2 separate regions of the Homo sapiens genome follow, and region 2 is linked to region 1. Evidence: fine-mapped expression QTL. A gene starts in region 1. The other region holds a variant in brackets. All regions are shown on one strand. Distances are between the middles of the regions. Region 1 holds the start of NFYC (nuclear transcription factor Y subunit gamma). Region 2 overlaps KCNQ4 (potassium voltage-gated channel subfamily Q member 4).

What was found.
Region 2: its variant is fine-mapped to the expression of NFYC in whole blood (TOPMed, PIP above 0.99).

Annotation. Positions count from the first base shown.
Region 1 is chr1:40,682,788-40,698,796 of GRCh38, forward strand. It overlaps NFYC (nuclear transcription factor Y subunit gamma), which reads left to right and starts at 8,917. Exons shown (of 10, transcript NM_014223.5): 1 at 8,917-9,080. It overlaps NFYC-AS1 (NFYC antisense RNA 1), which reads right to left and starts at 9,474. Exons shown (of 1, transcript NR_024567.1): 1 at 6,293-9,474. It also overlaps a transcript of RIMS3 not described here. RefSeq lists a silencer at 9,325-9,424 and enhancers at 9,665-9,834, 9,855-9,904.
Region 2 is chr1:40,820,699-40,836,019 of GRCh38, forward strand. KCNQ4 (potassium voltage-gated channel subfamily Q member 4) reads left to right here. Exons shown (of 14, transcript NM_004700.4): 8 at 1,616-1,704; 9 at 3,399-3,560; 10 at 10,386-10,606; 11 at 12,316-12,415; 12 at 14,269-14,400. Among named protein-coding and RNA genes, the nearest start is that of CITED4, 34 kb to the right of the region's middle. RefSeq lists enhancers at 59-560, 272-416, 314-458, 3,849-4,752, 13,901-14,426 and cis regulatory regions at 335-352, 377-394. The variant C/T (reference allele first, on the strand shown) is at 3,946.

The DNA.
Region 1 (16,009 bases):
TGGAGTGCAGTGGTGTGATCTCGGCTCACTGCAACCTCTGCCTCCCGGGTTCAAGCGATTCTCCTGCCTCAGCCTCCCGAGTAGCTGGGCCTACAAGCACCTACCATCACACCCAGCTAATTTTTGTATTTTTAGTAGAGATAGGGTTTCACCATGTTGGCCAGGCTGGTCTTGAACTCCTGACCTCATGATCTGCCTGCCTTGGCCTCCCAAAGGCATGAGTCACTGTGCCTGGCTGAACTTTTGCAGATCTTTTGTCTCTTTCTCTCTTTGTGGTATTACATACAACTTTCTTTGCATCTTTCACCTCTCTAGCTCAGAGAGGTTAAGTAAATGGAATGGGGACTCGAACTCAGGCTAACTTCAAAGCACATGCTGCAGACAATATTCCATGCTGCTTCCCAAAGTAGACCAATAGTCTAGACCTATGCTGTCTAATATGCAGTCATTCGCTACATGCTATGGTTTGAATGTCCCTCCAAAACTCAAGTTGAAATTTAATTGCTATTTTAACAACGTTGAGAAGTGGAACACTTAAGAGGTGATGAGGTCACGAGGGCTCTGCCCTCATAAATGGATTAATGCATGGGAATGGGTTAGTTATGGAGGGAGTGGACTCCAGATAAAAGGATACGTTTGGCCCCCCTCCCTCTCTCACATGCACACTTCCTCACCATGTGATATCTTCTGCCACGTTATGGTGTGGCAAGAAGGCCCTCACCAGATGTCGAGCAAATGCTGGTGCCATGCTCTTGGGCTTTCCAGCCTCCAGAACCACAACCCAAATACATTTCCTTTGTTTATAAATTACCCAGTCTTTGGTATTTTGTTATAGCAGCAGAAAACTAAGATACTACCTGTAGCTATTTCAATGTAAACAAAATGAAAAATTCAATTTCTTGGTTGCACTAACCATCTTTCAAATGCTCAACAGCTACACGTGGCTAGTGGCTACTGTATTGAACAGCACAGATATAAAGCATTTCTACCACTGCAGAAAGCTCTGTTGGATAGTGTTGGTTAGATAAAGGTTCTGTCCTCTGACCTCTTTACCCTCTTTTCCTTTATTTATTCTCAGGAAGTGGACAGACATTGTTTAGTCTGCCTAATCCTTTACTCCTACTTTTCTGAGAAGTGTTACTCTATCCTCTACCCTCCAGCATACCTTCATTCATAGAGTTACAGTAGATACAACCATGTTTATGCATGACCCTGTCCCCCTTTCCATAATGATACTTGATTCAGTGGTGGACATTTGGCCAAAGCTAGCTCTAACAAGAGCTCTTCCTCCCAGAAATTTGAAATTGAGCCTAAGAATCTAGTCACCTGGATGATTTTTTGAATGGAGGCAACTTGGGACTAATTGGTTACCATGTTTTATATGACATGGATTGGGAAAACTGGTCTTCAGAATGATAAAGCAATGACAAAATGGTTACACATATTGGGGAAAGTTGGATCTAGGTGTTCAAAGGATGTCAGGACTCTGTCTCCCTCTCTGTCTGAATTCTGCCTTCCTCTGTGATGTCTTCATTCTTAGAAAGGCTCTTTCCATGAAGCAAGAATAATGGCTGCCCTCAGTTCCTCATAGCTCAAGATCTCCAGAAGAAAAATCCTGTCTTTCTTATATATTTCAAATCTTTAGAAGGGCTTTTCTTAGCTTAGTTTGGGTGATGTGCCCATCTCTTCAAAAACTGTGATCTGTTTTAGCAAGGTTTCCTAGAAAACAAAGCCGGAAGAAGGGATTAAGTGCTAAAGCTTTATATGAGGGGCACAGCCATGGAGTAGTGAGAATTAAGGATAAGAGAAAGTGGGAAAACATGAGAAGCAAGGGAAGGAAATGTTTGCTGGCTACTTCACAATGAGCTGTAGCTAGTCTCTTGACAGGCGCACCCACTTGGCCATGGAGAATGTCTCTCTAGACAGGTTGTATGGAGAAATTTTATCTTGAAACAGCTCATTAGAGGAAGGAAGGGAAGAGTGGATTGTTATAGCCAGCTCCTTCCTGTCTCCCATTGATCAGTTTGCTCTGTGGGTAGCTAAATCCTCTGTAGTAGGTTGCTTCACTGGCTCCTTCAGCAGCTGCTCAGGAAGCCAAATCCCACGCTCTGTGAGGTGGTGTTTCATCAGGGTCTGGAAGTTGCAGGAGAAGCCATAGACTCCATGTTTGTAACTTGATGGCCTCAAGCAACAGAACTGTGAGACCTCGCTTAGATTTGGTCAGCTATGTCTGTTGTTGAGGTGGACCAAGTGGCTAATTGTCTGGGAGCCAAATTACCCTGAGAGGCTATGAGGAGGTACTGGGCCAAGATGTGGGAGATCGCTGATTGGTCAGACTGGGTCATGTTCCTACTCCTGTGGCTAATGGGGTACAGAAGATGTGCTATGGTAGGATGCATCCTGTCCTCTTTCCCTTCATGTTAGTTCAGAGTCTCAGGAAATCAAACGCCAAGACAGAATAAAATGCAATAAATTTATTATGAAAAACATAATTTATTAATATATATATTATATATATTAATATATATAATTATTAATATATAATATAATTATATTATATATATATTATATAATATAATATATATTAATATATAATAAATAAAAAAATTTATTATGAGAGGAAATGGAAGGGGAAGACTGAGAGAGCCATCGCACAGTGACGCAGGCCTGACCCTGAGTGAAGGACAGAGGGAAGGTGTTCAAGGTGGAAGTGTCTCAGACTGCAATGAAGTTCTAAGGAAAGTTTGGCAAGGCCATTGAGGAGTCCTTGAGTCAAAGTCACCCATCGGAAGAGTATCACTTATCCCAGGAACAGTCCTGTCCTAAAATCCCCGTTGGGCTCAGTTATTGGCTATGAGCAGCGTATGGGAAGTAAGACCTCGGAGTAAAGGGCAATGGATTTCAAAGCTCAGGATGGATTTCAGAACTCAGCAGCTGGACTGCTGGTAAATTACAATTTCCTCAGTCAGAGATCTGAGAAGCACATTCTCATGGCCACACACCCTCCCAGCCTAGCCAATACATAGATGAAGAAGGATAAATTCTACAACCTTTAAAGAAAAAAAAAAAAAGTAGGCTGGACGCAGTGGCTTACGCCTATAATCTCAGCACTACGGGAGGCTGAGGCAGGGGGGCAGATCACCTGAGGTCAGGAGTTCAAGACCAGCTTGGCCAACATGGTGAAACCCCGTCTTTACTAAAAATACAAAAAATTAGCTGGGTGTGGTGGTGGGCACCTGTAATCCCAGCTACTTGGGAGGCTAAGGCAGGAGAATAGCTCGAACCTGGGAGGCAGAGGTTGCAGTGAGCTGAGATCACACCACTACACTCCAGCCTGGGTGACAAGAGCGAAACTCTGTCTCAAAAGAAAAAAAGTAGAGTGCCATTACCAGTTGAAAGGGCAAGGGGTATTCAGCAGGCAAGACAACAAATGTCCACCCCACAGCTTACAATGTGCCACTTGTAATTCGAACTCTATATATCCAAACTTGAACTCATGACTTCTCCATACCCTGACTCTTCATCTGAAGACTACCATCCTCCCAGGTGTGACACATGGGAGTCATATTAAACACCTTAATTTGGCCGGGCACAGTGGCTCACGCCTGTAATCCCAGCACTTTGGGAGGCTGAGGTGGGTGGATCATGAGGTCAGGAGATCGAGACCTTCCTGGCTAACACGGTGAAACCCACCGTTTCTACTAAAAAAATACAAAAAAATTAGCCGAGCATGGTCGCTGGTGCCTGTAGTCCCACATACTCGGGAGGCTGCGGCAGGAGAATGGCGTGAACCCGGGAGGCGGAGTTTGCAGTGAGCTGAGATTGCGCCACTGCACTCCAGCCTGGGTGACAGAATGAGACTCCGTCTCAAAAACAAAAACAAAAAAAACCCTTAATTTTCTTGTTCCCTAACCCCTCAATCGCCAGTCAATGGTCAAGTCCTTACAATCTTTCCTTGGCAATATCACCTCAGCATTTGTATCCTCTTTCCTCCATTCTCATTGCTGATGATGTGTTCAGGCCCTCGCCCTCATTATATCTTGCCTAAACCATTGTGGAAGTCTCCACATGGTCATTCTGCCACTCTACTCCATCTTACTCTCTTTTCCAGATTGCTTTTAATCATAGTTTTGATCATGTCACTATCTTCTGTAAAACCTTCTACCATTGGGAATGTAAAATGGTATGATGCTATGGAAAACAGTATGGTGGCTCCTCAAAAAAAAAAAAAAATTAAACATAAGAATTGCCATATAATCCAGCAATTTCACTTCTGGGTATATACCCCCAATAATTGAAAGCAGGGACTCCAACAGATATTTGTATACTAATGTCCACAGAAGCATCATTCACAGTGGCCAAAAGGTGAAAGTAGAATGGTGGTTACCAGAGGCTGGGGAAAAGAGAATAGGGCGTAAGCGTTTAACGTATACAGAATTTCAGTATGGGATAATGACAAATTCTGCTGATGGATGCACAACGTGAACAGGCTTAATGTCACTGAAATGTATACTTAAAGATGGTTAAATTTAGGCCAGGGGCGGTGGCTCACGTCTGTAATCCCAGCACTTTGGGAGGCCAAGGCAGGTGGATCACCTGAGGTCAGGAGTTCCAGACCAGCCTGATCAACATAATGAAACCCCGTCTCTACTAAAAACACAAAAATTAGCCGGGCCTGGTGGCACGCGCCTGTAATCCCAGCTACTCGGTAGGCTGAGAAAGGAGAATCGCTTGAACCCGAGAGGCGGAGGTCGCAGTGAACCGAGATTGCACCATTGCACTGCAGCCCCGGCAACAAGAGCAAAACTCCATCTCCTAAAAAAAAAAAAAAAAAAAAATGGTTAAACCTGTTTAAAAGCAAAACAAAAAACTTCTACCACTCACTTCCCGTATCAGAAAATAAAGCCCAAGAGCCTTAATTTAACCATAATAATGTATCTTTCCATGATTCTTCTTCCATTCCCTCTTACTCTGTGTTTCCTCAACTGATCCCTCGCTTCTTCTATTTGCTTTAGTGGCTGCCTACATGTCTTCCCTAATTTTACTCATTTTTCAAGACCCAGTTCAAATGTCACATCCTTGCAAATCTTTCCTGAACTCCTCCCACTATTTCATACTAAGTGGAAGTAAGCTTTCCCTTTTTGAACTCCAGCAGCACATGAACTATATCTTTTAGTGCCGCTTTTCTATTTTTTGAGACAGAGTCTCGCTCTGTCACCTAGGCTAGAGTGCAATGGTGCGATCTCGGCTCATTGCAACCTCTGCCTCCCAGGTTCAAGTGATTCTCCTGCCTCAGCCTCCTGAGTAGCTGGGATTACAGGCGTGTGCCACCATGCCCGGCTAATTTTTGTATTTTCAGTAGAGACGGGGTTTTACCATGTTGATCAGGCTGGTCTCGAACTCCTGACCTCGTGATCTGCCCGCCTCAGCCTCCCAAAGTGCTGGAATTACAGGTGTGAGCCACCACGCCTGGCCAGCGCTGCTTTTCTTTTAGGCCAAAGGTACACAATGAGATAGAGAGGTGTGGCTTAAGGAAGTCCAGCTGGCTGTCTAGACAGGTTCTGTTATACAGTGCTATAACCTTAAGGAATTTACCATGATACAAGAACTGATGTTTAACCTTGCAAACTCAGAAACCTAATTTTAATAGTAAGCAGAAAGTTGAACCATTTCCTGGGGGTAGGGGGTGTCTTGTATTTGCCAAGCTCACAGAAACTTTTATATAAAGAGGAATCTAACTGATTAGTTACAATGAAAAATACAATGATCAAAAGAACTAGAATACTCTAGGTGGCAGATCACTTAATTCTGTCCCTATCGCCAAGACACTTGCTGGGTGAACATAGAGGAAAGCATGTTGATCTTAAGAAGTATTTCTTAGCTGAGGCAGTCTGAGATATTCCCATCCACTACAGAGATGACACGGGCAAGGAAATCCTAATGCTCAGTGTGGCTTAATTGAGATGAGGCTTAGAGGGGCAATGGTAGTGCTAGCCTTTGTGACTGCCTTGTTTTGGGCTGCCATGGCTGAGCAAGCCCTTTTGTTCACAGAATCTCTCTCCAAACAGGGTACAGAATGGCTGACGAGATTGATTAGGTTCCATTTATTAAATTACAATATCTACCTTCTTCAGGTTCCTCCCATATGCCCTTTATCAGAGTTTGTTTTGTTTTGTTTGGTCATGTTTGTAAAAAAGGTCTTGGCTTACCCCCATGGATAGCTAATTTCATGGTTGTATTAGTCTGCTTAGCTAGCATGTTATGCTGCAGTAACAACGAAAACAATCTCAGTGGCTTACAACAAAGGTTTATTTATTGTTCACACAACATTACAGGTTATGTGTGTCAGCTGTCGCTCTGCACATCTTCATTCTGGGACCAAAGCTGAAGAGGGAGCTCTATTTAGGACATGCTGCTCTTGTGTCAGAGGAAAGATAATATGGCAAAATTGTAAGATAGCTCATAAATTTCTGCTCAGAAGTGGTTCATGCCATTTCTTTCTTTCTTTTTTTGAGACAGAGTCTCACTCTGTCGCCCAGGCTGGAGTGCAGTGGCGTGATATTTGCTCACTGCAACCTCCAACTCCCTGGTTAAAGCAATTCTCCTGCCTCAGCCTCCCGAGTAGCTGGGATTGCAGGTGCCTGCCACCACACCTGGCTAATTTTTTTATTTTTAGTAGAGACAGGGCTTCACCATCTTGGCCAGGCTGGTCTTGAACTCCTGACCTCGTCATCCACCCACCTCGGCCTCCCAAAGTGCTGGGATTACAGGTGTGAGCCACCGTGCCCGGCCGGTTCATGCCATTTCTACTCATATTTCATTGGTCAAAACAAGGCCAAGCTTGACGACATTAGGGTGAGAAGTCTTTCACCCTAATCTCCTAGGGACAGGCCAGATAGCAACGGCTTTAGAAAGGGAAGGGCGGAGGCTATTGATAATAAAGACTATAGCAAGGACTAATATTAGGCTTATATGTATCAATTGACTGTTATCAGTTATAACATTGACTATTAAAATACTGAAATACTCTAGTACTACCTGGTAAATAGCTGCTGTCCCAAACCTCCTGACCACTCCCTTCCCCTGGGATCCCTTGGGACCTCCTATTCACAAACCAGCAACTGAAGGGTTAACACCTAGCACAGACGTATACCTCCAGGATCCTAGCTGCATTTCTAATTCTGCTTCATCTATGCTTGAGCACTACTTGTTGTTAAATATACTTAATATCACTCTTAGCTAATTTCCTCTATGTAGATTTTTATTTATTTCTGAGGGCAACCCAACTTCCAGGCTCTTGGAAGGAAATAGACTGCAGCCCCTAAGTGTGATCAATACTTAATTATAACAATAATCACTAATAATAACTTGTGCTGCTTCATTGTAACTAAATGTACACTTTTACATTTTTTGGCAAGCATAGTATATGCAATAAGTACTCAATAAACATCTGTAGAGAGACTTATTTAGCTTTTTTCCATTAGCTACATCTGTCTCTACAATCTCAACATACTATTCTCTTGAATCTGTTTTTAATTTTATGCCATTTCTCATGTCTGAAAATGTCATTATAAGTAACTTTTTTTTTTTCTGAGACAGGGCCTCGCACTGTCGCCCATGCTAGAGTGCAGCGAGACACTCGTAGCTCTTACCAGTAACTTCTTTATAACACTTTTGCAATTTACGAAGCACTCTCACATTATTTCATTCACTCTCCCCAACATTACCAAAAGTTAGGAATTAGATCTTTTTACAGATGAAGGAATTGAGACTCCCTGAAGTCAAGTGTCTTATAGTTAGGTTTTGTTCATTCATTCATCAAATAGAGTGCCTGATGTGAGATTTATTGAAACTGGATTTGAAAACAATTTTCCTGAATTCAAGTCGAGGGTTTACTCCACTATTCTCAATTACTTTATCACCAGGGTTATAAACCCAAAGGAAGTGAGTAACAACAGTGTGATTTTATTGAGGACCCATGCAACACTAGTCTCAGAAAGGCTCCAGTGTCATTTGTAAAATTCAAGGTTACCATCAGCAGAGGCAGTCATTCCTCTCTGCGCTTGTTACCTAATGCACTAACTCTCACTGTAGGTAATTCCATTCAAGACACATTTGATGACTATACCTACAGGTTTTGAAGTTATTCGGATGGGGTTTTGACACTTACTAGCTGTGGGGACTTAGATCAAGTTACTTAACCTTTTTGAGCTTCAGTTTTATCATTTGTAAAATGGATACAATCCTGATGCCTTTGGACCAAGTGGTCACGGAAATGAAAGAGATAAGTATGAAAAAATCCATGCTCATAGTAGCTGTGGTTTCCAACTGCGTGATAAAACTTTAAAATCTGCATTCAAATAAGAACAACTATGTCGACGTAAGGTTACAAGCTAACTATTCTTGGTAAGTACTGTTCTTTATTCTAGAGGACATCACTTTACAGTTTGGTGCTAAATGCTCTTTTATGAATTTAAGGTGCCAGTAGCTGTCTACTTGAACGGCATGCTTAATCTGGAACGCCATGTCGACCTTCATCCCCCAGTTCTTTCTCCCCAAATTAAAAACACAAATACACACACACGCCCCTACTTAGTTCCTAAAACTCAAGGGCACGCGCACACACCTACTTATTTCCTAAAATTCAAGCTCGCACCAAGGAGATCCACAAGGATAGGCAGGGTGGTGGAGGTCACTGGGCAGCGCCTCCGGATCCCCCGAAAGGGGGCGGGGTCAAAACTCAGATCTCGAGCTCCCGAAAGGGGGCGGGGTTAAAACTCTCAGATCTCATTCCGCCTCCCTCTGTCGTCGCCCCTTCCCAATTCTCGCGAGACCTCAAGGAGCACAGCTTCTGCGCACCGCACGATACTGGGAGTCCAGGCGCCAAGGGAGGGGGAAGGGAAAAGGGGAAACGGTGCAAACGGCGTGGCCGCCATCTTGCTTGTGCCCCCGCTTCGCGCGCGCTCCGTTCTCCGTGACGCACACTTCCCCCTCCCCTCCGCCGCGCCTGGGCCTCTGCATTGCCCGACTCCGTAGGAGCGCGGGGGCGGCTCCTGCTCTTCCTGGACTCCTGAGCAGAGGTGTGTGAGTGTGCGGGAGTTTCTGTGCGAGGGTGATAGGGAAGCGGCGGCGGGGGGAGGGGCAGCGCTTCCCGCCTTCGCCAGAGACCTCACTTCCTCGCGCGGCCGCTGCTGTAGCTCGGTCCGTCCTGCCCGCCGCCATGTTGTGCTCTTGCCTGGCCCGCTGCTGTCGCCGCCGCCGCGCTCGTGGGGTCCGTGTGCCTCGTCGGCCCGGCCCGCGGGCTTTCTCCCATTGGCGGAAGGCGACGGCGGGGGGGCTCGCTCGTGATTGGTCGGTGGCGGGGAGGCCGCGGACCTGGCACCTTATTGGACGCGCCAGCTCCGGTCTAGGGGGTGATGAAGGAATCTGAGGCTGCGGGGATGCGCGCGTCTTGGGCTAGGGCGGCTGGGGCAATGACCCCCTGCGGCGCAGGCGTGGGGTTGCGGCGAGAGGGCGAGCCTAGAGGCTTTAAGGGGGAAGAGAGGGTGATGGCCTGGCAGGTACTTTGGGGGTAGCTTAGGCCATGGCCTGGGAATGGGGGACACTCACTTTCAGAGGTGCTTTTCCTGGTACATGCATGGCCCAAGATTGGGGTGTGCAGGCCCTCAGGGTTCCAGGCTTGGAAACACCGAAACCCAAGTGACAGGCTGAGAGTCTTCGAGATCCAGGGTTGCTAATGTGACCCAGTTTGGAAGTGGCCCTGAAGTCCACGGTGTGAGTGTATGGTGTAGGAAGAAAGGCATCAGGGCTAGGGGCATAGCTGAACGGTAGAATCGGATCAGGGATTTTGCTGGAGAGTGCAAGCATTCAAACACTGAGGTTTTGGTGGAGCCCTGGAGTCCAGAGTCAACGGACCTGGGATGTGATGTGAGGAGCAAGTAAACCGAGAGAGGAATGCTATTGAGAAGTGTGCTCTGTCCGAGCCTAGGAAGCACAGCATTAAGTAGTATCAGATTTAAAGTGACAAAATCTGATATAGGAAGCATTTTAGGGGACATTTTCGGACTTGGGAAGTGTATTAATAGAACAGTTATACATTATTGAGTCTCAGGACCATACAAGTAGTTTTGAGATGTTGTATATGAAATTTGCTGCTCTAGGAAGGATACAGGTCATGGCTGAGTTTCCAAAGCCACATTAGCAAATATTAGGTAGTTGGTAGTTATTTGTTGAGTAAATATTGTTAGGTTCCCCTTTAAGGGAAAGGGAGCTAGCCAGAAATTTTCGGTCTTGGTTTATTTCCTTGTATATGTGCCTAAAAAGTATACCCATTCCCATGTGTACTTTGAATTTTTTGTTTGTTTTTTCAAATAAGCAGCTCCAAACCAAAAAAAAGCCCATGCATAGCTTCTTAAGGAACAGGACTTGTCAACACTTTCTGGTTCATATTCAAAAAGTTTTTATTCCAATCCAGAGTCGTTCCAGTCAACTTGTTGGGAATATGTTCTTTTCCACTGAATCTGAATCGTAGTTACTTGTATTGCTTTACATTTGCTCGTCCCAGTGTGTGAGGGCCATGGAAACACATTTATGTTAAACATCTGTGTTTTCCTAATTTGTTTTTCCTTGTTTTTGTTAGGTAGTCCTTTTTAGCTTTAGATGGTACTCTTCTGTTTTCATACCAATTTCAAGAAACTCCTAGGGTTTTCAAATTTAGTTTTATGTGAATGCAACTACATTTTCTGGAGAAGGGAATTGATAAGTAGCAGAGGAAGAGAATTGCTATTTTGGGGCATATTTTAACTCCAATAGGTAGGCATTATCGTCCCCATATTGCAGATGAGGAAACTGAGGATCAGAGAGTTTAAGTAGCTTGTCTGGTGTCACTCAGTAAGTGGTTGAGCTAGAATTCAAACCCTGGTTGCCTGATGCCAAAGCCTGTAATTTTATCTGCTACATCAGCTATCAACATAAACCTGACTAATGAAACTTCCAGATAATTTTGTATTTCCAAGTGGATCATCTACTTTGATTTCTGGGTGTTTAGAGTGTATAAAATGGAAGACTATAATTCTTAAGAATTTCTTGTGCTGCTTAAGGATTCAGACCACAGAATTGTAACCATAGAGAATATGGGTTCTTCAGCTAGGTATTCAAATCATATCCCTTGGCTTCTATTGTGAAAGGGAAGATTTACCAAGTAAATTGCTGCATTTTTTCCTGAATCCAGGTAGATAATGGGGAAAAATATGTACAGAAACTTGAAGAATCTGCATTCCTTAAAACCAAGCTTCAGAATATTGCAGATAGTCTTTCTGTATGTGGAGGTAATTTATGCCAAATGGCGAGGAACTACCAAGTGCCTAGTGTAAAGAGCTCACTGGAGAGGTTTTTCAAGCATCACCAGTTCCTTAGGGTGTCCCCAAATACCAGGACCTATTCAAAGGCCTAGTGCTTTCTTCAGACTGTGGGATATTGATTCTAGGATATGCTTATCCTGAACAATGTGTAAAATTAAGACTGGATAGGACAAAATATTTGCAGTTCCAATTTTGCATGGAAACCTTTAAATCAGGGTTTGAGAGGAGACCAGTGAGTTGGAAATCTTAATTGCTTTATGTCTTGATGTGCTTAGGTGAAGCCCTCCCTCATTTTTGTTTACAATAACGTTTCACTGTGGAAGATAGAGGCAAAGCTACAAGTGAAAATAGGGTTTGCCATGTATTTTGTACATTGGTCATTTCAGCCTCATTTGGCTCAGTCATCAAGTTAACCAAATATGAAGAATGCTGTAGATCTATAACTTAGTTTCGTTTTTAGTAAGACTAGACAAGGTGATAAAAATGAGTGTATATGTACACCTTTTTTTTTTCAGCAGGCATTTCTGGAGCAACCTGCCCTTCAACATTGGTGACCACCTTCATTCCATGTTAGCCCCTTATACCCATGGCCACCTTGTTAAGATCTGGAATTGACCACTCTAGAAATCTTGAACTCTCAGGAAATCTCAGTAGATCTGAGTTTATGTTGAAAACTTGTGAACCTCAGCTTTTTCTTCAGGCAGAAATCATACTAAGATTTATACTTTATAGGCTGTGTTCATGGCATCTTATTTAATTCTTATGACAAATCTGTTATCTCATTTATACTTACACATTTTTTTCTTTGGTCAGAACTACTAGAGACTGGGCGCAGTGGCTCACGCCTCTAATCCCAGCGTTTTGGGAGGCTGAGGCAGGTGGTATTTGAAGTCAGGAGTTTGAGACCAGCCTCGCACACATGATGAAACAAAATTACAAAAATTAGCCTGGCATGGTGGTGGGCGCCTGTAATCCCAGCTACTCGGAAGACTGAGGCAGGAGAATTGCTGGAACCCGGGAGGTAGAGGTTGCAGTGAGCTGAGATTGTGTCACTGCCCTCCAGTCTGGGCAACACAGCGAGACTCAGTCTCCCAAAAAATAAATAAAAATCCCAAAACTGTACTAGAGAAGATTTTACAAGGCATTTTTATCCCCTTTTATTTTCAGAGAAATGAAGGCAAAGCGAAATGAGGATTCATACCACAGAATTGTAAACATATATGGGCTAAACCCATTCTGTGCTATGGAGCTATGCTGGGAGTCTTGTTTTGGGTTTTGTTTTGTTTTGTTTTTTGAGAGTTTTACTCTGTCACTCAGGCTGGAGTTGCAGTGGTGTGATCTTGGCTTACTGCAACCTCTGTCTCCCGGGTTCAAGCGATTCTCCTGCCTCAGCCTCCCGAGTAGCTGGGATTACAGGTGTGCACCACAACACCCAGCTAATTTTTGTATTTTTAGTAGACACGGGCTTCCACCATGTTAGCCAGGCTGGTCTTCAACTCCTGACCTCAGGTGATCCACCCACCTCGGCCTCCCAAAGTGCTGGGATTATAGGCGTGAGCCACCGTGCCCAGCCAGGCTATGCTGGGTGTCTTTTTGAGGTAATTTTGAAATTTATATCTTTTAGTTCAAAAGTACTGAGCCACTAGGATCTGTGAATCAAACACAGGGATAATATAGTTACTACTTTTATTGAGTGCTTGCTTACATTGTACCAGCTGGGATATAAATGTATTATGTATATTTATTCTCATACACTATGAGGTAGATAATATAGCCACCCTCATTTTTACGTGTGAGGAAACTGAAAAGTAATTTGCTTAAGTTCTCACAGCCAGTAAGTAGCAGAGCCCAGATTCAGACACGGATTTGTAATTCTGTTTTTTTTTTTTTTTTGAGATAGAGTCTCGCACTGTTTCCCCAGACTGGAGTGCAATGGCGCGATCTTGGCTCACTGCAACCTCTGCCTCCCAGGTTCAAGCGATTCTCTTGCCTCAGCCTCCTGAGTAGCTGGGATTATAGACGCCCGCCACCATGCCTGGCTAATTTTTTGTATTTTTAGTAGAGACGGGGTTTCACTGTGTTGGCCAGGCTGGTCTCAAACTCCTGACCTCGTGATCCGCCCTCTTCGGCCTCCTGAAGTGGTGGGATTACAGGTGTTAGCCACAGTGCTCAGCCACAGATTTGTAATTCTTAATTCTTATGTAAATGAAGCCCTTACTCTTAAACACTGTGTTGACACCATAGAATGTTATGGGAAAAGAAAAAAAGTCCTGGCTTCTTAGCTCAGGAAGCGAACTTCAGTTCTTTCAGGCGTGTCCTTTGTACTGAGGCTCCAAAAGAGTGAGATGACCTTGACAGGGTCACTTGGCTATGCAAGGGCAGAGCCAAATCTTGCCCAGATCACTGGATTTCCAGATAGGTGCTCATTCCACTGGATAGCATTGCCTCTCCTGTGGACGCATTGACTTGATGGCAGAGATGACTTTAAGTGACAGGTTTACTTCATTCACCGGAATGAGAATGGCAGAGGACATTACTAGGGTCACAAATGACCTTCTTAAGGTCAATCCTGGCCTCAGGCATACAACCAGGAAGAATATTCCTTTGCCAGTAAGTTGTTCTTTTCCATTCTGTTTCTTGTTCTCAGAGGAAACTGGTTGTGAGTTATCTGATGTCTTACAGTCTTTCTTTTCATTTTGTTTATTCAGTTTTTCATGCATGCACTGTCACAGTTTAGGAAGGCTACAAGGTCATTTTAGTGTTTTCCTGCAGAGACTCAAAGCACTCAATATAATGTAAGTAGATTAATTGCAGGAGGAAATGGATTTTTAAAACTTTGGCCAAAAAGTGCCTATGGGAGAGGACAGTATTAGTTGCTGATTGGAGTCAGACCAAGGGAAGAGTTCTGTCTCTGCAGTGCATTTACCCTCTGTGCTGGAGCAGGTTCTTAACTTGTTTCTTCTTCTGTAAAATAACGACAATAATACCTACCTGTAGGGTAATTATGAGAAATGAATATAATAGCGTGTGGTAGATGCCTATCACTTAGTGGACCTTAATAAGTGGGAGAACACATTTTCATTTTGGAACAGCATGAAATCTGTCCTTTCAGCCCGTTACAGCTTCCTTGATGAGGAGGGGTGAGGCCTTTTGTAATTGTCTGCTCTGCAATATACAGTAAGATTTCCAAATGGGAGAGCAACCACTTGACATGAAGTAACCTAATTTAGTTGTGCTGTTGTGGTTTAGGAGCTGATTTTCAGTGGACCAGTGTGAGGTCAGTCTTACTTTTGAATGCACAAAGTAGTAGGATCATTTGTTTCAGGGAAAGATTGTTTCCTGATCTCTTTTGTTCATCCCCAAGTGTTGAGTGGTAATGATTGCGATGCGATGAAAACTTCTTCATATTTGACAAATAGCAATGATGATTAAATTCGGAACAACTGGTGTTTTCATTCTGACCAGAAGGAGAGATTTCCATTATAGTCATTTAAAATTTTTCTAACTGTACAAATTATCAGTTGAAGTAGGACCGTTGGTTTGGTTTGTGTGATTTGTAGTCACTTGAGTAACGTTTTCTTTGAAGTAAGCAGTTAGACAGTATTGTGGAATGGTTCAGGAAAAATCTCTCTGCCTGCAGAAAATTTTGCTAGGTTGCAGGAATTGTTGCACCCTTCCCACACTTCTCCATGTGTTAGCAGTGATGTACCTGATAGCAGTGAGACAGCACCTGTACTCATTTTCAGTATTGGAGTTGTATTTTCCATTTTGTTATTTTCAGATCTCCAGATAGATTACTTCTACATCCAGTACTTCATGAGAGCTTTCTATTGTATAAACTTGTAGTTTAAAGAGTGGAACTAGAGTCTAATCTTTGCATTTGAATGTTTCCAGTAGAATACGTTTAAAATAAAGGTTGAAATATCCATGTCTGGTCAGGCACAGTGGCTCACGCCTGTAATCCCAGCACTTTGGGAGGACGAGGCTGGCAGATCACCTGAAGTCAAGAGTTTGTGACCAGCCTGGCCAATATGGTGAAACTCCGTTTCTACTAAAAATACAAAAATTAGCCAGGCATGGTGGCAGGCACCTGTAGTCCCAGCTACTCAGGAGGCTGAGGCAGGAGAATCGCTCGAACCCAGAGGCGGAGGCTGCAGTGAGCTGAGATCATGCCCCTGCACTCCAGCCTGGGTGACAGAACGGGATTCCCTCTTTGAAAAAAAAAAAAAAATTCACGTTCAAGGTACTATATATAAGGTGTCCTATTTAAATGAATGCCATTCATTCATTTATTTATTTGCTGGAGTCTTGCTCTGTCGCCCAGGCTGGAGTGCAGTGACATGACCTCGGCTCACTGCAACCTCTGCCTTTTGGGTTCAGACGATTCTCCTGCCTCAGCCTCCTGAGTAGCTTGGGACTACAGGTGCGTGCCACCACACCTGGCTAATTTTTGTATATTTTGTAGAGACAGGGTCTCATCTTGTTGGCCAGGCTGGTCACGAACTGCTGACCTCAGGTGATCTGCCTGCCTCAGCCTCCACTGCGCCCAGCCTGAATACCCTTCATTTAAAGCCAATAGTATATCCTTTGCCTCCCGGGTTCAAGTGTTAAAGTCAATTGTATATTCTTAATAAGATTCAATAATTGTC
Region 2 (15,321 bases), 140 kb after region 1:
TTTTAGGAATCTCAACATTTAGCAGGTGGGTGGGCCTGCAAAGTTGAGCTGGGCAAGGAGACAGAAGGAACAGCCAGAGGGGTGGGTAGGAAGCCAGGAGTGTGTGGTCTCAGTTTCCCTCTGTGCCATGGCGTGTTGTGACTGTGTGTGGGCTGAGGCCAGGGCTCTGATTTTCTGTGACCCTGGGACTAGGCCTTGGCTTTTTCTAGTCAGGGGTGTGTGTAAGGGAACTCCTTGCAGGAAATGCTTCAGGGAATACTGGCCCAGTCCACCTCTGCCTGCTCCCTAGCCTGTCACCCTCTGAGCCCCAAACCCAAGCCTCACTCAGCCCTTCCTTATCTCTCCTCCCCAGGGTAGAACCCTCCTCCCTGTCGCTGTTATCTCCAGCCACCAGCTCAGCCTTTTCTTCTTAGCGTCCCTTGGGGCACAATGGCCACTGTCCCCTGGGAGCTGGCCTTCTGAGGGGCATTGTAGGGGCAGGCGGCTGGCACTGTCCATGCCAAGAGACAGCTAGTATTGTGGTGCCCATAATTAATGAGACAGCTCTGGCAGCTGCTCCCCAGCCCATGCCAGGGGCCTAGGCAAGCAGGAAGTAAAAATATTCCTGTCTTAGGAGGGTGCCTGGCTGGTGAGGTCAGCAGTGGCAGCCCCTTAAGGACAAGAGGCATCCAAAGAAGGGAGGCGTCCAGGGCCCAGCTCTGCCTTGTCCTGCCTAGCAGCCTCCATGCCTCCCTGCTCTCACTGATGGCCACACTCACAGTCCCTCCCTGGCTCTTCCTACGTGGAGGGAGAGGGACAGTCTCTCCTCCTGTCTGACTTTCATCCCTCCTGCTGCAGAGGAAGCTCGGCAAGCCCATGGATGCTGAGGGGTTGGTAGGTAATGCTTTTCCTCCCCTCTCAGTCCTTAGTATTCCCATGGGCAGTGACAGGCAGCTGGGAAAGATGGAGTGGCATTGCTAGTAATAATAATGACATTCTGCAAACATTTGCAAAGCACCCACATGTGCCAGACACTATATTTGCACTGAGAATGCAGCGGTAACAAAGACACAGCTTGCAGTCTAGGGGGAGAGAAAGTTATCAGTCAAATACACAATGAATAGGTATTCATCAAATGTGATAAGGGGAATAACAGGAGTGTTTAACAGAGGAACCTGGCATGAAGTGCCTACTATATACCAGGCACTGAGCTTGGCATTTAATATACAACTGTTCATTTAATCCTCACAACACCCTGGTAGGCAAGTAGTGTTACATGCGTTTTACAGGTGAAGAAACTGAGGTCCTGAAGCTTTACTTAATTTGTCCTCACTAATAAGGGGCAGAGCTGGGATTGGAAACCCATGTCTGCCTGACAACAAAACTCCAGCTCTTAACCTCTATGCTCTATGGCCCCTGGCTCTGACATTGATCTGCTTTGTCCCCTCGGGGAAGTCGTTTCTCCCTAGGCCTTACTTTCTTGGCTGCCCCTGTCAGTGGCTGTGGAATTGGAACTGGCCTCTGGCTCTGGGTAACCCACAACTGGACCAAGGACTGGGTTCTTTCAGGGGAGAGGGCTGGTGGGGACTGAGAGGCCTCACTGATGCCCCATCCCCCACGTCCCCCATACCACCAGGCTGCCTGGCGCCTGTACTCCACCGATATGAGCCGGGCCTACCTGACAGCCACCTGGTACTACTATGACAGTATCCTCCCATCCTTCAGGTAGGTCCTGCTGGGGGTGGGGGTGGGTGGGGGGCTGGCAGCAATGCCCTTTGAGGACAAGTGGCTGAGACTCAACCCTGGAGGGTGGAAAGGGGGTGATGGCTCCCAGGGGAGCACCCTGGGCTGGCTCTGCAGATCCTATGTAATTCAGAGCCTGGAGTGTCCTTTATTCCACTCTGCTATGCCCAGGGAAGAGGTGGATACTGGACATAGGGCATTGGTGAAGCCCTGCCCCATGGCTGAACCCCGGCCCTGGAGTGCTGGCAGTGTGCATGCTCACCCATAGGTGATGCCATCTAGGGCAGTGATACAGCCAGCTCGTCTCCCCTCAGTCCTGAATGGGGGACAGAGTTAGTGGATATTGCAGCTGGTTGGAGAAAGTGTGGGATGGGCAGAAACATGTGTTCCAGACTTAGGTGCATGCTCCTACCCTGAACCCCCATGTAGGAATATGTGCCCACTTTTACTGGGCCAGTCAGCAGCCTCAGGGCCCAGAAGTGGGTCTGCCCCACTGGCCCGGGCCAGGCTAAGACTGCATGGGGGTGGCACCAGGAGAGGGATTATTAATAGCATCACAAAGGTGCGTGTGGCCAGGTGCCTGGCTAGGCCCTCAGGCAGGAATGAAAACCATGGAGCCCAGCTCGGTCCCACGGGCAGGCGGGCATCAAGCTTGTGGCTGGGGCAGGATGCTGTGCTCAGCGCTTCTGCGGGTGCCTTTTTTGCCTCATTAGTTCTCCAGGAGAAGCTGTTGCGCGATTCCACTCGCCTCTGCACCTGGCTTCCCCATCCCTGCGCCCTCCCAGCCCTAGGGGCTTCCCAGGGGAGAAGCAGGAGAGAAGGGGCCGGGAAGAGGGGCTCCCAGCATCACACTGGTGCCCCCACATCTCTCCACCCGGCAGAGGCAAGCTCCTACCTCAGAGTGGGAAGGTGACTAGATTAGAAGAGAGGCCTTTTGTTCAAGGCTGGGCATTCGAGAGTGGGGCAGGGCTGATTTGTAAGAAATACAATGTGTATGAGGGAAGATCTGGGGGTGGGGGTGGTCAGATGGTCTAGGACCTCTGCCCAGAGGAACAGAGCCTAGTCTGGAGATTCTGGATCCACTGGGCATCTGCTCCCTGGACCTTAGTTTGGTCATCCATGCAATGGGAAGGCAGGCAGGAGAGAGGGAAGATACCCTCCTTGGCTCATGGCAGCAGAAAATGGCCTGGAGAGTTAGGAAGAAGCCACGGTCCCGAATCTAGTCTTCAAAAACCCAGTGGCAAGAGTGAGTGCTGGAGGGGAAGGAAGCTGGGCTAGCCACCCTGTCACACCGCCCTCCTCACCTCCATCTCCCCTTAAAATCCAGAGTCAGATCTGGAGGGAAAGGATGTCAGGGCCACTGCTGGCCTCTCTGAGGAGGCACGGCACGTTCAGGCAGTCAGCTTGATGGGCTGAGAGTAAGCTCCTTGCACGGCTGCCCTTGAGCTGTGCCAGCCTTCACATCCATGCTTGGCATCCCTGGGAACTGGGGGTAGAAAGGGAGTGGGGAAGGCCAGTCTCCCACTGTCCACCCTGTCCTATTCTGGCCGGGCTGTCAGTGAACACCTCTAGAGCAGCAGGACCTGGCAAGATCTGAGCTCAGGAGCTCTGTGCCCACTGGGTGAGGGGGGTGGTGCCATGGCCCTGCCTGCCACTGATGGTGCCCTCTCCTGCAGAGAGCTGGCCCTCTTGTTTGAGCACGTGCAACGGGCCCGCAATGGGGGCCTACGGCCCCTGGAGGTGCGGCGGGCGCCGGTACCCGACGGAGCACCCTCCCGTTACCCGCCCGTTGCCACCTGCCACCGGCCGGGCAGCACCTCCTTCTGCCCTGGGGAAAGGTAGGGGCCCCGTGGGGCTGCCACCTCCTCTTGCTTCTCCTCCTCTTCTTCCATTCTCTGTCTTCATCCTCTCTCAGACCTGCCTTCAGCCACTTCGTGGGTGTCTGGGCCTGTTTGGGGGACTCCTAGGCCGTCAGAGGGCCAGACAGGTACAGACTGAGGGCCTCTCTGGAGGGGTCAGGCTGGACTCACCTTTTTGTCCTGTGGGGCTCTGAGGGTCTGAGTGGGAGAGATGTCCATGCCATCCTTTCCCATCATCTCCTCCGTTCATGGCATTGTCCTCTTTCTTTCTCTGTTCCCACGTCCCCCTTACTCCTCCATCCCTGCACCCCCATCCCTCCCGGGAAGCTGGACAGAGGAGGAGGCCACTGGCCACAGGTGCTTA[C/T]GGCTCAGGTAATCGTGGGCACCATCCTGGGGTGTGAGGGCAGGGAACCCCCTCCCCCGGCATGTTGCTCTAGGAGGGACTTAGTACTGAACTCGCCTCTTGGGAACGAGATGCCAGCTGGAAAGAGAGCTCTGTGATTAAGACCTCTGTAGGACCTGCGTAAACTCAGCCAGTGACTAATGTTCCTTTCTTGTGCAGCCCTTGTCTGCAACTTTGCTAATCCCAGAGGGTCCTCTTGGGGTTCTGTTTCCTTCCTTACTGAGGTACACTTTGGCGCTCCCAGCCATCTCTTTCCCCTTGAACTGTCTCTCCTGAAGCTTTTTACAAAATCTTGAAAGAAGAACAAAGAACAAACAATGCTTACCCCCACATAAACGTTCCTAAAGAGAAGAATTTCAGGCATGTTTGGATAAGGGAAGCCCGTCCACTCACAGCATGGGAAAGTGGCTGCTCTTGTAGAGGTTTAGCTTTGAGGTCAGGGGTTAAATCCCCCTCATTCTTTTTCCCTCGTCCTTTACCCATCTCTTTGTTTTGTCTCATCTTCACACATCACCCCTGAACCAGCCAAATGGACATCTGGCCTTTGAGCTTCAATGTCATTCTGAGCCCCAGGCCCAGAACAAAGAATAGGAGAAGAGGCGAGCCGCCCAGTGATCAGCAGGGGAGGCGTGGTGGAAGCTCGCCTCTGCCACCCGATGCTGTGTGTCCTGGAGGAAGCCTTCAGTCATTCTGAACCTGTGTGTCCTGGCGGAAAATCGGCAGTGTTTAGGCTGATTGGGGCTCTGGGTACTCTAGAGTTTCTGGGCTGAAAAGGCCTAGGGAGGAGTTTTGGTGCAGAGGATGCAGGGAGCAGCCTCCCTTCCTTGTTCTCAGTGAGGGCACTTCTGGGCCAGGGGCTGAACAGGAAGTGGGTGGAGAGGGAGAGTCCCTCCAGGTCTGGGGCTGGAGGGAGGGGAAGCGTGACTGCCAGGCCAGGCTGAGAGCTCCCTGGGAGAGTAGGGCCCCTCTCAGATTCTCTGCCCGAAGGTCCCTCATTGTTACCTTCATCCCTACCAAACATAGTTTCCAGGCGGAAACTCAAGAGTTTTTGTATCCCAGCAATCCTGTCCAGGACCTGAGCCAGGGCTCTCTGTGCTTCCAGTTCACTCTGGTCTCATTTTGACTGAATAGGAAGGCAAGGGGAATGGACATTAGCCTGGGGCCTAGTACCTGTACACTCCCCACGGCTCCTTTGGTCCCTGACACCCCCAGGGCCCAGGAACAGATTACTACTAAGGGCTTGGCTGTCACTGACTCCCAGCCTCGTATCTATCTGCCTGGGAGGGGACTTGGCGAGTGTCTGGGACACAGGGTGATGGTAGTAAAGTGGCCCTTTCTCCCAGGGACCCCAGGGGGCTGAGCCATGGTTTGTAGATCAGTCACCAGGCTCAGGCCCAATGGCCGTATCGTTAATCGTGGCTGTCTAGACCGCCAGCCAGGACACCCTTCCTCCACCAAAAACACACACACATATACACACTCGGTTGGCCACACCTCTGGTGGTGCTTGGGGATGGACCTGGGCCAAGTGTGCCCACAGGAAGTGGTGCTAAAGGAGCAGGATTTCCTGGGGGATGGCATTGCCAGGGCCAGCACCTCTCCTCTTCAGGGTTTTGCAATGAGTTTATCAAACCATGGTCTCCAGACCTCCTGCATCAGCATCCCATGGAGTGTTTGTTCAAAATGCAGATACCTGGACCTGTCTCCAAGCCCACAGGATCAGAATCTCTGGAGAAGAGACACAGCCTTCTGCATATGTAACATGGTCCCCAGGGGATCCCTATGCAAAGTGTGAGAACATCTACGTTCTGGTGATGGGGCTGGAGGATGATTTAGGTGGGGGTCCTTCTTTCCCACCAGCTACCGGAGGCCGGCCCCATCCCAGCAGCTCCCCACACTCTGCCCACAGCCCCTTTCCCGCTAACCTCTGTTCGTGTCTTATTCTCAAACTTCCAGCCAGATGTTTAATAATAAACGGAGTTTCTTTCGGATCCACGCCAGCTGGAGACCGAGGTACCCCCTCGCCTGCTCCTCCTGTCCCCACTCCTCCTTGCCCCACCCAATTTGGGGGCTGGAGAGGGGACAGGATGGGCCAAGGACAAGGTGCATGTGCCTGCCGCCTGCCGTCTGCCTTGGGTGCCCAGTGAACCCCTCGCCTTTCTGGGATGCCTCTGCTAGGTCTGGGGCATGGGCCCAGGGTGCCAGGAGGGGCACGTGCAGGAGCCTTAAGGATGTGTGCTGGCTCTGCTGCTGATGCCCTCTGTGATCTTGGCCAAATTGCTTCCCTTCTTGGACCTCAGTTTTCCGTCTGTGGAATGGGCAGATTGAACTAGAGGACCTCTGAGGGTCCTTCTCACTCTGACTTTTGCCAGGCCTTGGGCTTAGCTTTCTGTCTCCCTGCTACCCACCTGGGGACCTAGCAGATGCCTGAAGGAGCTGGGTTTGGCACCTTTGCCAGCTCCAGGACCCCAGCTCTTTTAGCGGCATCTCCATGGCATTCCTTGGTACCTGCCCTGTGCCAGGACTTGCTCTGTGCACTAGGGACACGGTGATGAATAAAACATCGTCCTCGGAGAGTTGCAAAGAGTAATTGCAGCTCAGTGTGATGAGTGCAACAAAGGGAGGAAGCACAGGGGCTGTGGAGCCCGGGTCAGGCACACAACCCAGAGGAAGCCCTAAAAGCAGTGGGTTTCAGGGAGGGCATTCCAGGCAGTGAAGCAGCACGGACCCAAGCAAGGAGGCAAGAGGGAGCACAGTGTGGGGAAAAAAGCTGGCAGCCCAGTTTGGCCCCCCTGAGACTGGACATCAGAGCGAAGGTTGGGGGCAGAGCTGGGTCATGCAGAACCTAAAAGCCCAGTGTGAGCTTCACCCTGTTGGCATGCTTGGCAGCCTGAGCTCATGGAGTCCTGGGTTTCCAAAGGTGCCTCTGGGGCCCTGTGGGCTGGGGTCCCGGAGCTAGGAGATGAGTGGCAGGGCTCCTGGCTGCCCATGTGTGCTTCTGCTGAGAGGTGTTTTTTCCTAGAAACGTGGGTTCTGGACCACAATCTAGCTACTACCCACTATTCGTGTGTCCTTGGGCAAATCACCTGACCCCTTTGCACCTCAGTTTCCTCAGATGTAAAATGCAGATGTAAATAGGGTCTGCTTCCACTAAAACTGGACCTGGCTCCAATAAATATTGGCCTTATTTGATTTGGTATGTTCAGCAGTTAAGATCTTATTTACCTTAAAAGAAAATAGCTTAGAAACCATGGCTGTGGGCAATGGTTTGAGCTGAAGCGTTGAGCTAAGGAGTCTCTGGGTCAGGCCCGCCATTTTGCAAGCCTCCTTTGGCTGTGGAGGGTGTGGACAGGAAGGACACAGCCATGGCAGAGGCCAGTGGCGAGGCTGTTTCCATAGTCCCTGAAGAGGGGCTGTATGTGGCTTCAGAAGTCGTAGGCTGCCTCTGTTCCCCCAGTGAGAGTGGCCCTGGGAGGGCAGATCATGAGGCCCTAAAGAAAGTCCTTGTGGAAGTGAGTTCAAGGGGTTGGGACCAGCAGGGCAGCCTGGGCAGAGCTCGGCCTCCCCAGCAGGGCAGCCACAGTCCAGCCCACCCCATCTTTCTCCCAGGTACCAACAGATCCTTAGCCAGAGTTTCTTGACCTTGGCATCATTGACATTAGATAATTCTTTGTGGATTGCGACTATCACATGCATGGTAGGATGTGGAACAGCACCCTTGGCCTCTACCTACTAGATGTCTACCTACTAGACATTGCCACATGTCCCCTGAGTGGGGGAACTTGCTCCAGTTGAGAACCACTGCTCTACACCCTATCCTGATTGCTTGACCCAGAAAAAGAACATAGACTCTGAAGTCAGAGAAGGCTGGGTTCCAGTTCTTGCTCCATCTCATAGGAGCTCTGTGACCTTGGCCAAATCATCTCACCTCTTTCCGTGTATATAAAATAGGGATGGTAAAGACCGCCCACCACACACAGTGGCTGAGAGAACTGAAAGAACTAAGGCAGCCTGATGGGACCCTGCACGTTCTGGGAGCCTGGGAGGGGAAAGAGCTTTTTGGTGCCCACTGTGTGCCAGGTTTTCTTCCACCTTCTTTTAGCTTTCAGACTTAGAGGAGCTGATATGAGCCATTTTCTGGGCCCTGCCCAAGGAACTGGAATCCAGACCCACTCCTGGGAAAACAGTGCCTTCTTGCATTAAAAAGGAGCTCAGGGCCTCTGGCTGGCTGGAAACTTACAGAACCCCACAAACCAGACTGGAAGCTTCCTCAACCATCACAGAATCAGAGCTGGAAAGGGACCTTTCAAGGTCTCTAGTGCAAGCCCTCGAACTCCTTCCTCCATAAGTCCTGCTGAGTGCAAGCTCAGCCTTGCTTGCATTACTTCTTTTGACAGGGAGGTTGCCCTCTTCTCCAGAACGCCATTGGAGCCTTATGTGGTGGGCGCAGTGATGTGGAGTTCCAGGCCCTTGGCCAAAGTGTCAGGGCCTTCTCCACTCTCCTCTCTTCCTCTCCCTCTTGGAGGAGTGGAGGACAGGAGAAGGGGTTGCACGGACCGGGCAGGGTGGAGGGTGCTTGCCAGCATGAGGGAGCCTGCAGGAATGGCTCTGCAGAGGAAAGTTTGGGAGAGCCAACCTCAAACTTTGATTGGAATCTTTGGGATGTGTCGATGGAGTCCTGGGCCAGTGGAGAGCATGCTGGATAGTGGGAACTGGGAACTGTCCCTGTCCTTTTGATACCCTCAGGGCCCCCATCCTTGACCTATTAACCTCTCCCCTCTGGGCAGAGGCCGCCACCCCTAAGGATGGCCCTACATCCTGGCCACCTTCCTGAAGGTGCCCCTGGTTTCGAGGTCTCCCTCACTTCAGCACCTTGGCTCCCTCCCCTCCACCCCATGCCCTGGGCATGGGAGACCCCAGTTCCCACCCAATACCGAAACCAGAATCTCTTCTCTGCTCAACCCTTGATCTGAAAGCCTCTGAGAGTAGGTGACACGGTGTCCTCCCCCAACTCCTGCCCCACTTCAGGTCTCCTCTAAGGCTGGCTGGTACTCTCTTGATCTGGGGCCCCAGACATTTGGGGTGGGTCCCCCTGAACCCGAACCTGAACCTGTCGGAATCTCTAGTGGCAAACCACAGCAGGGGAGGCAGCGATGACGTCACAGGGCATGGGATGGAGGACATTTGCATAGGTCCTACCCCAACAGCCATAACATTGTCCTTGAACCTCTTGGACACAGAGTTACTCTACCAGATCATGGTTAACCAGGGCTTGTCCTGGGGAATGAGGCCTCTGCTAACTTGTTTTCCTCCAACGTTTGGGGAACGTGGTGGGGAGTTGGATGCGGGAAGGGAAGTCTGAGTGCATGTGTAGACGTGCACGTACACGTTCACATGCACACAGACTGTGTAAATGCTGTTGAACCGGGAGCTCAGTAGGCAGTATCGGGGGGTAGATCTTTAGCGGGGATCCAAGACCACACAGGCAGGATGTCAATCAAGGTGGGCTGAACTTAGGTAGGAGAGACCACAGAAGAACATGTTATCAAATAGAGACCCTCACTGAGAGGGCAGGCACCAGGCATGGCCTGGGCATACATGTGGGCCCAGCAGCTAGAACCATGGGGCCGAGGCCCTCAGTAGGCCATCACGCTGCACACCTCCAGGGCACCACTGCATGGAAGTCTGTGTGATGGAGTCCTTATTTTGCAGTGCACTGCCTGCACAGCTGTACGAGGCCCTAAAACCCTGACCAGTGTGGGATCAGATAGCCGCAGCAGTGGGGAGTGGAGGAAAATATGAAATGACACATGTAAACACACGCCAACATATGTACACACACCAGTGCCTGTACACCCACACTCGCACATGTGTGTGCACAAGGTGTGTGTGTGCATGCGCGCACACACACACACCCTCGACTCCACACAGCCTGCCCCTGTGTACAGTGAGGACTGGAGGCCTACCTCCGTGTGCATGGCCAGGTGAGCTTCCGACCCTCAGCAGCCTGTCTGTGCCCAAAGGGGTCGCCACCCCCACCCTCTGCCCACTCACCTGCGCCAGGCCCAGCTCCCACATCCTCCTGTCTGTGTCTCTGACTTTGGATTTCTCCCACTCCTTCCACTCTGACATCTGTCTCCTGTGCACCCCTTATCTGTCCGGGTGATGAGGGGTGGGATGTGGGTGGTGGGGAGAGGATCTGCTTCGACTGACCCCGAATCAGCCTCTTGTAGGAGTGAGGGCCTCCCTTACCACATCCTTGTTCCATCCCAAGAAGTCTCCGCTTGGCGGGGAATCCAGACCTAATAGCCACCCCCAAGTCCTAAGTCAGCTTTGTCCCCACTCACCCCCACCCCCAGCTCTGGCTAACTTGGCTCTCTCCCAACCTGCCTGCCCTGCCAGCAGCCGGATGGGCATCAAAGACCGCATCCGCATGGGCAGCTCCCAGCGGCGGACGGGTCCTTCCAAGCAGCATCTGGCACCTCCAACAATGCCCACCTCCCCAAGCAGCGAGCAGGTGGGTGAGGCCACCAGCCCCACCAAGGTGCAAAAGAGCTGGAGCTTCAATGACCGCACCCGCTTCCGGGCATCTCTGAGACTCAAACCCCGCACCTCTGCTGAGGGTAAGCCCCCGGGGGGCTGAGTCCGATCGAGGGCCGGCTGAGGGTGGCAGGGCGGGGACAGTCTGGGCTGGGAGCAGAAAGATCTGGCTCGCGTCTCAGCTCTGGAACTGATGGACCGTCTTTGGGCTCTGGTCTTCTCATCTGTAAAATGGGCATTATAATATTTGCTCTGCTATACAATGGACATCAGACTGTTTGGGAATCACGTGGAGGGTGGCATTTCATAGGGGTTAGCAGCACAGGCTTTGGAGCGAGACTGCCTGGATTTGCATCCTGGCTTTGTCACTTATCTTAGGCGAGTGACCTAATTTCTCTGGGCCTCATTCTCCTCATTCATAAAATGGGAACAATAATAGCATCCACTTCCTAGGATTATTGTGAGGATTAAATGAGATAATCCATGGAAGGTGAACAGAAGACTTTTGGGAATATAGGAGGTGCTCAACAAATAGCTAAACACAAATGTACTTTGGAAGCGGCAGGAATGCATCCTTGATGAGCCCTGACTATGCACTGCCCAGCACTGGCTTATCTCATTTACTTCTCCCAGTGACCCTGGAAAGTAGGTTCTGTTTTTGTCCCCACTTTACAGACGTGGGCACTGAGATCTCTCAGCTTGTGAGTGGCAGAGGTGCTCTCCTCAAGCAGGTCTATTCAGCTCCAAAGCCCAGGCCTTCTTCCTACCCCTCTTCACCCAGCCCAGGCTGCAAGTATGAGACTGTGGACCATGCTGATGTCACTTTTCTGAGTTTTGGCTCTGCTGGAGACTTCCACTGTGATTTAGGCAGGAGACTGCCCCTTTCCATGCCTCAGTGTCCTCTTCAGGAAAATGAGAGGGTTGGACCAAGCCCCCTGGAAGACTTCTCCCAGCTTTGACATACTTTAGGCCCCTGGGTGGGGAGAGGTGGGGTGAGTGCACAAGGATGGGGGATGGGGACAGCTCCCCCTTTGGCCTTGGAGGGAGGGGACCCAGCCATGCTGTTTCTGCCTGTGCTGTGTCAGCCCTCAAGATGCTGCTGGCTGACACCTCAGAGTTTACAGAACCCCATAGACCAGTCTTTGAGAGGTGCTGCCCATAGAAGCCTGGGCACAGCTGGTGCCCAGGACCTCCCTTCCCTGTCCTGGAAGCTGTCCGGGCTCTTGCCACTGCTCCTGTGAGGCAAGGACAGCATCACCTCTCTGCGCAACACAGGGCACTAGCCTCAGAGAAGCTTCTCTCATTCAGGGAAGAATGGTTTGTTTTAAGGGCCTTCCCTAGTAGCAGAGCTGGGCCTGGGAGCCAGCCACTTGGGTGTCCTTCCATCTTAGCTGAAGGAGAAGACTGTGTGCATGATTACATGCAGTGCCATCAAACCCCTTATCTCTGGGGCTCACTGTTCTGCAAGGTGGAACCAGTGGGGCTTCCTCCAGGGCTTTGTGCAACAAACTTGCCCTGGACTAGGCCAGCTGTGCCCTAAAGCAGCTCCCACCTACCCACCAGGCAGATGTTTACCCTGACTGGCCACCGGGGCAGATGGGCATGCAACACACTGGGGCTTTCCACCCTGGGGAGGGCAGTGAGACACAGGAGCCCCAAGAAGGTTCTGAGCCCTTTCTGGGCCTCTGTCTTCCTATTGGACACTCTACTGGTGGTTTGGCATACAAGGGTCGGATGGGAGGTTGGGAGTGGCCCCTTTGGTGGGCCACTTGCCCCATACCTGCCTTTTCAGATGCCCCCTCAGAGGAAGTAGCAGAGGAGAAGAGCTACCAGTGTGAGCTCACGGTGGACGACATCATGCCTGCTGTGAAGACAGTCATCCGCTCCATCAGGTAAGACTGAGGCCTGAGGCGAGCACCCCCCTCCGTGTGCCACCCACTGCTGCTCCCCATCTGGGCGGGTGGATCACTTGAGGTCAGGAGTTTGAGACCAGCCTGGCCAACATGGTGAAACCCCGTCTCTACTAAAAATACAAAAAATTAGCCAGACGTGGTGGTGGATGCCTGTAATCCCAGCTACTTGGGAGGCTGAGGCAGGAGAATCACTTGAACCTGGGAGGCAGAGGTTGCATTAAGCCAAGATAGTGCCATTGCACTCCAGCCTGAGCAACAAGAGTGAAACTGTATAAAAAAAAAAAATGTATTTTTTATGGTGGGTCTTGGTCAAAAAAGTTTGAAAGCCCCTGCTCTACTGGCTGTCTCCATGCCTCAAAAATTAAGCAGGGACCAGGGTCTCCTAGGCCACGGCCTAGGCATGGATCTGGCCTCCAAGCTCCTTGGTGTGCCGTCCTGGCCTAGTCTCCATCTCCAGCCTGCAGCTCTAGCTCCAGAAACCCCCTCAACCTCCAAGTTTTCTGGGCTCCCCACTTTCTTCCCTGGCTGATACACCTGCCCACAAGCCTCTTTTCTTGTATTCCTTTTAAAATTAGAGTCAGGCTGGGCGTGGTGGCTCATGCCTGTAATCCCACCACTTTGGGAGGCTGAGGCAAGAGAATCACTTGAGGTCAGAAGTTCGAGACCAGCCTGGGCAGCATAGTGAAATCTTGTCTTTGCAAAAAAAAAAAAAAAAAATTAAAAAATTAGCCAGGCATGTTGGTGTGCCCCTGTAGTTCCAGCTACTTGGGAGGCCAAGGTGGAAGGATGGCTTGAGTGCAGGAGTTTGAGGCTGTAGTGAGCCGTGATTGAGCTACTGCACTCCAGCCTGGGTGACAGAGTGACACCTTGTCTCTAAATAGATAAATAGATAAAATCAGAGTCAGCTGGACCTGTCCCCACTACCCCCCACAGTCTGAAGCCTCTGCTTACCCCCTTTTCACCCATCCATTCTCTCCCCTCCATGTGCCCAGTGTCAAGGACATAGTACCTGACCTGCCACCTGACCCAAGCCAGCTCTCCTGGGCCACCCCACCGACCTCTCAGCCAGCATGCCCCAAACCTGCTCCTCTTCCTGGGCTGGTTCCCATTTCAGGCAGTGGCACCACCATCCACTTGGTCACCCAAGCCATGGGAGTCATCCTGGACTCAGACCAGGGAGACTTTCAGCCCCACCTCCTGAACTGCTCCAAGCTCTTCCATATCTCCTCCCCCATCCCCTAAAGCTAGTTTCCCTGCCCACGCCTCTGCCCCTCCAGGGTATTCTCCACACAGGCTGGCAGAGCTGGCATGCTAAAGCAGAGTAACTGAGCCGGGAACAGTGGGTCACACCTGTAGTCCCAGCACTTTGGGAGGCTGAGACGGGCAGATCGCTTGAGTCCAGGAGTTCGAGACCAGCCTGGGCAGCATAGTGGGACCCCCATCTCTTTAAAAAATAAAAATTAAAAAAAAAAAAAACAGAGTTATTGATGTGCCTGCCCCACAATGTCCCATTGCCCAGTCTCTGCCAGAGATGCAGGGCTCTTCAAAGCACACCCCAGCCTCCTTCTCGAGGCTGATCTCCTGTCTTCTCATACCATGGCACCCTGAACCCCATCCTCCACCCCGGCTGGTTGATTAACCCCTTTCCATCTCATCCCTGTTTCTGCTACTTGGAGGTAGGGGAGGCTGGGAGACGCAGCAGAGGCTGTTCATGGTGGCCAAGCAGGAGGTGCCCTGGTGCTGGACAAGGGGATAGCAAAGAGATGGAGAGGGTGCTGGGAAAGAATCCCTGCTCTAACAGGACACTCCCTCTGAGCCCCCTCCCCCAACAGGATTCTCAAGTTCCTGGTGGCCAAAAGGAAATTCAAGGAGACACTGCGACCGTACGACGTGAAGGACGTCATTGAGCAGTACTCAGCAGGCCACCTGGACATGCTGGGCCGGATCAAGAGCCTGCAAACTCGGTGGGTGCACCGGGCCTGTTGGGAGGCAGGGGCAGGGAGGCAGCGACCCCAGCCCTGAATGAAGTCTGAGGCCAACCCCCGAGCACCCCCAAGGGCTCACTGCTGCAGCTGAGTTTCTAGACTGAGGAGGTCCCTGGCTTGCAGTGCCAGCCTGAGGCCAGACCCAGCACCCGTCCCAAGGCTGAGAAACAACCCAACCATAGTTTCTCTGTGAGGTGGGTCCTCTGTGCAAGCCCTATTGACTCATATGCCTTGGGGGCTTTGTTTAGAATGACTGTTTCCTGGTCCTAAAATAATCAGCCTAAAATAATCACTGACCTCCCATCTCCCAAGAGAATAGGCAAATTGTCCTCACTGCCCACCTCTTGCCTCTGGAATCCTCCCACATCTCTCTGGTAGACCCAGCATTAGGAAGAATCCTCACCCCAAGACCCACATCACCTGCACCTTGCCCTTCTCCTCTTCTGGCCTGCATTTTCACTGTCCACTCATTCATTTAATCACTCGAGAAATAGTCAGTGGGCATTTACTACTTGCCAGCCTGTGGGGATATGGCAGAAAGCGCAGCAGAGTTCCCACACTTATGGAGCTTTCATTCTAGTGGAAGGAGAATAAGTGATAAATAAGTAAAACTGGAATATGTCAGACAACGATAAATACTAAGGAGGAAAATAAGGGTCAGGCTGTTAGGGTTTGCAATTTTAAATAGGTGAGAAGGTTCTAGAGGGAACAGCAAGTGCCAAGGACTTGAGAGGGGCAAGTGGCTGGAGTGTTGGCTTCAGCACAGCAGGGAGCCTGGTGTGGCTGCACTGGAGTGAGAGGTAGGAGGTGAGGTCAGAGGGCTAACGGCACTCAGAGAGTGTAAAGTCCTGTAGGCCCCTGCAAAGACGTTGGTGTTCATCCAGGATGAGCTGCAAGCAT